2 separate regions of the Homo sapiens genome follow, and region 1 is linked to region 2. A link means that fine-mapping ties the variant in region 2 to the expression of a gene that starts in the linked region. Tissue or cell type: sun-exposed skin. Region 2 holds a variant in brackets; the other region holds the start of a gene. All regions are shown on one strand. Distances are between the middles of the regions.

Evidence for each region. PIP is the estimated chance that this variant, and not a neighbour inherited with it, causes the effect. A credible set is the group of variants that fine-mapping cannot tell apart.
Region 1: LINC02613 starts here. The variant in region 2 is the best candidate, but not a certain one, in a credible set for the expression of LINC02613 in sun-exposed skin (GTEx, PIP 0.89).

The regions. Positions count from the first base shown.
Region 1 is chr2:38,513,208-38,517,606 of GRCh38, forward strand. LINC02613 (long intergenic non-protein coding RNA 2613) reads right to left here and starts at 2,533. Exons shown (of 5, transcript NR_110259.1): 1 at 2,240-2,533.
Region 2 is chr2:38,435,437-38,439,835 of GRCh38, forward strand. No RefSeq gene overlaps it. Among named protein-coding and RNA genes, the nearest start is that of LINC01883, 6.3 kb to the left of the region's middle. RefSeq lists enhancers at 811-1,105, 3,503-3,752, 3,773-3,822 and a silencer at 811-1,105. The variant G/A (reference allele first, on the strand shown) is at 2,592.

The DNA.
Region 1 (4,399 bases), 78 kb after region 2:
ATACAGTTATATAAGTTATAATTATATAAGTTTAAGCTGGTCTCAAACTCCTGACCTCAGGCGATCCACCCACCTCGGCCTCCCAAAGTGTGGGGATTACAGGTGTGAGCCACAGCACCCAGCCCTAGATGTTTTAAATGGAATATTTGGTGTCCCAAACCTAGATTACAATCTGAAGAAGAGTAGAAACAGACCTCTGTATAAACCAACGTAAAACTGAAGCCAATCTCAGTTGCTGGGTCAGGGTTGAAATGTCATGATCTCCCAGCTGTGAGCAATGTTTGAGATAGTCCAGGTTAATCCCTGCCTTTTAGAAAGGAAGAAAGGAAAGCCTGGCCACTAGCTCCACATCACCCCTAAAGGTAATAACAAACCAGGACCCAGGGCTAATATTTGTTTCTTGAGATTTAAACTTTTTCTGAGTGTGTTTGGATTTTTTATATAAGTTATAATTATAAATATCCTGACATAGATTCTTTCCTTCACACTCAGCCTCTGTCTTTTACTCGCTTGGGTGATCCCCAAGTCAGAAACTGAGGGTAATGGCTAATATTTGTTTCTTGAGCTTTAGACTTTTTCTAGTGTGTTTGGATTTTTTACATAAGTTATAATTATAAATATCCTGACGTAGATTCTTTCCTTCACAAAAGCAGAGAACAGCTAAGATCACCCAGTGAGTAAGAGACAGAGGCTGAGTTACTACACAGTGTGAGGGTGATAGCAAGAGTTGGAAAAAAAAAAGATGGATTTTTTTTTAAACTTCCTTGAAAATAGTGGTAGGATACACAATATTGAAGGAGGAGAACAAAGTTAGAGGACCGACACTATCTGACTGCAGGAGTTACTATAAAGTTGCAGCAACCAAGACAGTGTGGCATTGGCAAAACAATAAACGAAGAGCTGGGCGCGGTGGCTCACGCCTGTAATCCCAGCACTTTGGGAGGCCAAGACGGGTGGATCACTTGAGGTCAGGAGTTCGAGACCAGCCTGGCCAACATGGTGAAACCCTGTCTCTACTAAAAATACAAAAATTAGCTTGGCCTGGTGGTACACACCTGTAATCCCAGCTACTCAGGAGGCTGAGGCAGGAGAACTGCTTGAACCCAGGATGTGGAGGTTGCAGGGAGCCGAGATTGCACCACTGCACTCCAGCCTGGGTGACACAGCGAGACTCCATCTCAAAAAAAAAGAAAAAAAAAAAAGGATAAACAAAGAGATCAATGAAACAGAATAGAGATCTCAGAAACAGACCCATATAAATATAGTCAATTGATGTTTGACCAAAAAAACAAAGGCAATACAATGGGGAAAAGAAAATCTTTTCAAAAAATGGTACTGGGACGAGACATTTATATTCAAAAAAAAGGAATGAAGACATAGATCTCATACCCTTCACAAAAAAATTAACTCTAAATAGATCACAGACCTAAATGTAAAACACAAAATGGTAAGACTCTTAGAAAATAACATAGGAGAAAATCTAGATAACCTTGGCTTTGGTAGTGACTTTTTGTTTTGGTTTGGTTTTTTATTATTATTATTTTTTTGAGACAAGGTCTCTGTCACCCGGGCTGGAGTGCAGTGGCGCAACCACAGCTCACTGCAGCCTTGACCTCCCAGGCTCAAGTAATCCTCCCACCTTAGCTTCCTGTGTAGCTGGAACTACAGGCACATGCCACTATGCCTGGCTAATTTTTCTGAAATTATCTGTAGAGATACAGTCTCTCTATATTGCCAGGCTGTCTTGAACTCCTGGGCTCAAGTCATCCTCCCGCCTTGGCCTTCCAAAGTGCTGGGATTACAAGTGTGAGTCACTGCACCCAGCCAGGTTATGACTTTTTTGACATGACACCAAAGGCATGATCTATGAAAGAAAACACTGATAAGCTAGACTTCATTAAAATTAGAAACTTCTGTTCTGTAAAAAATACTTATGATAATATAAAGAAAAGCCACACACTGGGAGAAAATATTTGCCAAAGATGTATTTGATATGGGGCTATTATCCAAAACATAAATAAAACTCTTAAAACTCAACAGTAAGGAAACAAACAACCAATTAAAAATGGGCCAAGACATTAAGAGAGAGTTCACCGCAAAAGACATACAGGTGGCAAATAAGCATACGAAAGATGCCCCACGACGTATGTCATCAGGAAAATGCAAATTAAATCAACAATGAGATACCACCTACACACCCTTTAGAACAGCCAAAATCCGGAACACTGATGTAAGGTACCTGGAAGTGCTTCGGTCAAGGAATAGTCTGAGGCGGGTATCCAGGCCTGCACGAGTCAGCAAGTTTGGCACGCAGGCGCACACCTCCACTTGTTATATAAACTGTTTGTGTAAGTTCATACTTGACTTGGAGCCACAGTTGTCTGTAAAAGGTATAACTGCCCTGTTAACACTGCGCACCAGACACATGGCTCTGGGGCTCGGCTCGCCTGAAATGGCTTGTCATGGTAGGCGCGCAGGCGCCCAGAGAAAGAGCGAGCGAGTCAGAGCTGTCCGTCTGAGCCAGGACACAGCTCAGCTCACTCACTCCCAGAGAGAGAAAGAGTTAAGCTGCTCACCCTGAAGGCAAGGGAGAGCCGGCCACGCAGCTGTGTGTGGGAGCCGCCAGACTAAGCAGCCGAGACAGGGCGGACAGTGTGAGAGAAAGCTGTTGATAAGAGCTGCTGCTGAATAAAGTCATCTTTCAACTGCCTACAGCCCCCCGAGTGTTCTTTCTGCTCATCCAGCCACTCCCTTCGGACTCAACATAACATGTGGTGTAGTCATGAACCTGACAACTGACAACATCACATGCTGGCAAGGATGTGGAGCAAAAGGAACTCTCATTCATTGCTAATAGGAATGCAAAGCAGTACGGCCACTTTAAGGATAGATTGGCAATTTCTTACAAAACTAAACATGCTGTTACCATACGATGTAGTAATCATACTCTTTGGTTTTAACCCAAAGAAGTCAAAAATGTATGTCCACACAAAAACCTGCACATGGGTGTTTATAGCAGCTTTATTCAAAATTGCCAAAACTTAGAAGCAACCAAGATTTCCTTCAGTAGGAGAACGGATAAATGAAACTGTGGTACTTTTAGTCAATGGAATATTACTCAGCACTGAAAAGAAATGAGCTATCAAGCCATGAAAATACATGGAGGAAACTTAAATGCATATCACTAAGTGAAAGAAGCCAATTTGAAAAGGCTACATACTGTATGATTCCAACTATATGACAACATGGAAAAGGCAAAACGATGGAAATGGTAGAAAGATCAGTAGTTGCTAGGGGTTAGGGTGGAGGGAGGTATGAATAGGCAGAGCACAGAAGATTCTTAGGCCAGTGAAAATACTCTGTATGATGGTTTAATGGAAGATACATGCCATTATAAATTTGTCCAAACTAACAGAAGGTACAACACCAAGAATAAACCCTAATGTAAACTATGGACTTTGGGTGATAATGATGTGTCAATGTGGGTTATCAATTGTGACAAATGTACCACTCTGGTGGAAGGGACGTTGATAAGAGGGTGGCTATGTATGTGGGGGGCAGGGAGGATGTGAGATATTTCTGTATCTTCTGGTTAATTTTTCTGTGGACTAAAACTACTTATAAAAATAATGTCAGCCAGGCGCAGTGGCTCACGTCTGTAATCCCAGCACTTTGGGAGGCCGAGGAGGGCGGATCTCGAGGTCAGGAGATTGAGACCATCCTGGCTAATGCGGTGAAACCCCATCTCTATTAAAAATACATAAGTTTTTAGGCATGGTGGCAGGTGCCTGTAGTCCCAGCTACTTGGGAGGCTGAGGCAGGAGAATGGCGTGAACCCAGGAGGCGGGGCTTGCAGTGAGCCGAGATCATGCCACTGCACTCCAGTCTGGGTGACAGAGCGAGACTCCGTCTCAAATAATAATAATGTCTATTTTTTTAAGTTTCTTTAAAAAGAAATACGCAAAGGACAAAGCAGGGGCCCCTGAAGTTTCATCACTTAGAGCAGTGGTCTCCAAACTACTGTGATCACACAGACCATTAGGAAATAAGTTTGCACACCTTCCTTCAATGCATGTATACTGTATTTATTTATAATTTTTAAAAAATAATTGTAGAATCATGGGGCTACCTTTTTTTATACAGAGAGTACAGTTGCTAGACAGATAAGGACTGCTATATTTCTCTTATTCAAAGGGATGTTTTTTCTCTTCTCAAATAAAAACTGACATGAGTCGGGCTAGTTAAGCAATTTCATCTTTTCTCCGGTTACAGATCTGATTTCATAAGACACAGTGATCACCTCTTCTCTGACAGGCATTGAAGAGAACACACTAATAAGTCGAGCCACTCTGCAGAACGCCACGGCCCACGTTTTGCTTGCTTTTTGTTTCCATCTAGA
Region 2 (4,399 bases):
TCTGTTGAATCACTCACCACCCACGTTTCCCCATAGCTGACAGGGAAGGAGTTGGCCATGGCCTCTATTGCATTATCCATTGTTCATTCCCATAAAAACAAAGGGATATCTTTCAATATCTAGGCAATGCAAAAACCTTGCCTTCCAAATAAGGTCTAACCTCTCTGATTCAACTTATCAAATAGCTAGCTCTACAGCCAAGGGTAAAACAAAGAGACCTCAGCTTTGGGCTGCAGGATTCAGCTTCCCAGATGGGAGGTGAGAGCTTGCTGGGCAAGTTCCTCCTCCATCTCCCACTAGTTCACTTTGACCTTCCTTTGATGGTCAAACCCATTTCTCCCAACCACCAGCATGATTCTGATCACTGTTTGGGTCAACCTGCTGACTCCTTCTCCACTTGGTCCCCTGCAAGAAAGCAGTGTGAAGCCTCTGGGCTTGTTGATTCAATAATCATCTTTATACTATACTTACTTAGGAAAAAAATGTCTTTGTGAGAAAAGACAGACAACAGACACCATGCCTGATACAGCGTCAGAAAGAAGCACTGTTTATTCAACTGACTTGATTAGTGAGTGCCAGACAGCTATTAGAACAAAAATCATGTTTTGGGGCAACAAAATCATGCTTTGGGTCTATTTGTGTCATGGCAAGCCTCCACAGAGTACCCAGATAATGCTTGTTATCGTCACCCATATTAGCCAAATGTTTGGATAAATAAAGATGTTGTATGAAATTCCCTATCTGTTGCTTTAACATAAATTCACATGGAGTGGTACACTGGTGAGTCATGTTCCATTTCATGGCTATATGGTTTCCATGGCCAAAAAAATGAGAAGAGGGCTTCCTTGGGCTGGGAATCTGTGTAAGAATGTGCTTGCTTAATCTGCTGCCCTCCTGTTTGCCTCCTCTGTGTACATACACCAGGTCCACCCCCAAGCCTATGGTTCATTGCACATTAGGTGACCTAATCCTTGAGTGGTTGCTGGAATTGTCCACCTGGGGCTAGTGTTTACTCTAAATAGACCCACTACACACACAGGTCAGAAGCCAACACAAGTGAGCCTTGGGCATGCCCATCCCGTTGACAGCCGCTTTCTTAGATCATCTACCTTTGTTTCCACTAGGCTCTGACTCCTTGCTCCATTTTGGTGTCTAGCTGGCTTGAAACCCTTTGGGCTTTGTGTCTTGTTCCCAGGCCCTGGTTGAGTATGATCTAATTCTGTGTCCTTGCATTTGACTGTCAGCAGTGGGCTGGTACCAGCCCTGAAGCTCCCTTGTAACCATACCCCAGCCTATCAGCATCAGTGAGGCCCCTCCAACTCTCCTACTGGACAAGTTCTGGTTTCCCTCATGGACGAGGGTTGAACAAAAATGAAAGATAAGTCAGTTGTTATGACTAGAAAAAGTGATTACCAGGCCCTCCCTAGAATCCCACCTCTTTCAGAGATATCCAAGTACAACACAGAGAACCAGAAGTGGCCAATTCATTTTGCCAATCAGGCTACATAGACTCATGAGTCACCTAAGATAGACACACCTTTTGAAAAACAGCTGCAAACAGACCTGGAACAAACACTTTCTTTTGCTGAGAGCAAATAAAAAGATTACGTTAGATGGATCTAGAAACATTTCTTTTATTTTTTTGAGATGGAGTCTAGCTCTGTCACCCGGGCTGGAGTGCAGTGGCATGATCTCAGCTCACTGCAACCTCCACCTCCCAGGTTCAAGCGATTCTCCCCCTTCAGACTTCCGAGTAGCTGGGATTACAGGTGCCCACCACCACACCCAGCTAATTTTTGTATTTTTTTTAGTAGAGACAGGGTTATACCATTTTGGTCAGGCTGGTCTCGAACTCTGACCTCAGGTGATCCGCCTGCCTCAGCCTCCCAAAGTGCTGAGATTACAGGCTGAGTCATCACTGACAATACTAGGAACATTTCTAAGATTCAAGGAAGAATCAAATAATCCAGTTCTTAAAAAGGCTTGGATGCAGCTGAAATTCACAAACAGCTAAAACCAGGAGCTACATCTCTGCCAGTCTCTGCTTCTTCCTACAGGAGGTCAAGTTCCTACTCATCTCTAAAGTCCAGCTTTCTCTTCACAGTTGAAAACCTGGCCACCAACAACTCCTGGCTATTTCTTTTTTTTTCTTTTTTTTCTTTTCTTTTCTTTTTTTTTTTTTTTTTTTTTTTGAGACGGAGTCTCGCTCTGTTGCCCAGGCTAGAGTGCAGTGGCACAATCTTGGCTCACTGCAACCTCCACCTCCCACCTTAAAGCGATTCTCCTCCCTCAGCCTCCTGAGTAGCTGGGACTACAGGTGCCTGCCACCACGCCCAGCTAATTTTTGTATTTTTAGTAAAGACAGGGTTTCACCATGTTGGCCAGGCTGGTCTCGATCTCCTGACCTCATGATCCACTCACCTCGGTTTCCCAAAGTTCTGAGATTACAGGCGTAAGCCACCATGCCCAGCCTAGCTTCTGGCTATTTCATCTTGCAGGTTCATCCACCGGAGAGAGGACCTCCACCCCCGCTCTCCTCTAGTCAGCCATCCTAAACCCTCAGAAGGAGCCATTGGTCCACCTTGTAATAC[G/A]ACTGCTTCTACTGCAGTCCCTTGATGGGGGCGAAGGTGCAGCACGACATGACAGTCCCAAAGGAAGGGAACTGCTGCAAAGGGCCAGAATAGGTGAGATTTATCACCTCATCTTGGTTCTCAGTTCCACCAATCCCAGCCCCATCCAGCAAAACAAGAATTCCCCTGTTGTGTTCAAGCTATGTCCAAAGATGAAGGCTACAGTCTGTTTTCCACAAACCACTTTTGGAATCCTTACCAAGTATTGGCTTGCAATACAAAGGATCCCTTCTCTATTACTATGTAACTAAAAAAAAAAAAAAATTGAGCTGCCCCATCTGAAAAGTCCCTGTGTCTTAGAAAAAGGCTTTGTTCTGTATTCTGGATGAGGCCAATCCTCAACAAAAGGCAATATAACAGAGAGGTTAACTTCACAGCTTCTGGAGTTAATTTAGGGATCAGTTCAAATCCCTGCTCCAACAGTTATAGGTGTATGACACACAGCCTCGGCTTTACTCTCTATAAATGAAGATAACTGATAGTCACTTCCTGGTGTTGGTATGAGGATAATTTGGGGCAAGGCATGAAGAGCACTTAGCATGGCACCCGGGACACAAAAGACCTTTAATGACACTGGATAGACTTGGTCTTCAGTGATGTCCTCTGCCTTTTTCTGCCATCTTCCCCCTCCTGCCATTCCCCAGGGAATCCAAGGCTCTGCCTCCAGGAACAGATGTTTCCCACCTGTTCCTCTTCCATATGACTTTGCAATGGATCTTCATGAAACATACACTCCCACCCCAATCTAAGACCCTTCATGTCTTGTTAAAACAGTGAAGATAAAGTTAAACTTCCCTAGAGTGGGCCCCAAGGCTACTTTCAATTTGGACCCTGCCTGCCTCTCCTACCTTGCAGTGTCTCCTTAAAAAAATCTCACCATGCTAGATCACTTGCTATTTCTCAGATATGTCATGCTCTTTTACCACAATGCATGACTGCAAACACTGTCCCCTCTTCCTGGAAAGCCCCTTCCCTGGCTAGCTCCAACTAGCCTAACCAGTTTTCATGATGTTTGTGATCAGGGGATTCCCAGAAACTTTTGCTGACCCCAACCCCCATTTCGAGTTAGACAAGCTTCCTCTGGCTCCATTCATGCCCACGTTTCCCTCTATCAGAGTCCTTATTACACTGTATTTGCTTGTATGTCTTTGTTATTAAATTCTGCTCTTCTTGAGAACAAGACTACATTTCCAGCATGAAGCACAGAGCCTGGCATAAAGGTAATGTTCAATAAAGTGTGATTGTCTGAAACACCAATGAGTATATTTAGGAAGCCATGTGTCCTGGTAAGAATGAAGATGAAATGTACAGTCCTTTTCCTCTTGTAGCTAAGTGAGTCACTGGGTACAAAACCCATGACCTTGCCCACAACACTCCAACTGGCACTTTCAGCTGCTTCATGGGAAACAGAATTCAACACTGCATGTAAAATACTGGATTTTAAATCCAGAAGCCTACCTGCAAAGTCCCTCTTTCTTGTGATCTTGGTCAAAATGCTTAGCCTTGTTTGTCTTGCCTATGAACAATTTTTTTTAATACTTGGCTATAGAAAATAAATACAATTATGCCTATAAAATTAAAAAGTATCTTTGATGTTTTTTTCCTACATGGCATTGTCATGGCTGCTATTGAAAAGATGACAATTATCCCAACCTCTAAGCCAAAGTTAGTCCTTGTTCCTGAATACCATCAAGTCATTGTCTGTTACAAGGAAACACTAGACATATTTTGTGCTTTTCTGGTGTCTGAGTATTGCATCTCAAGTGGAG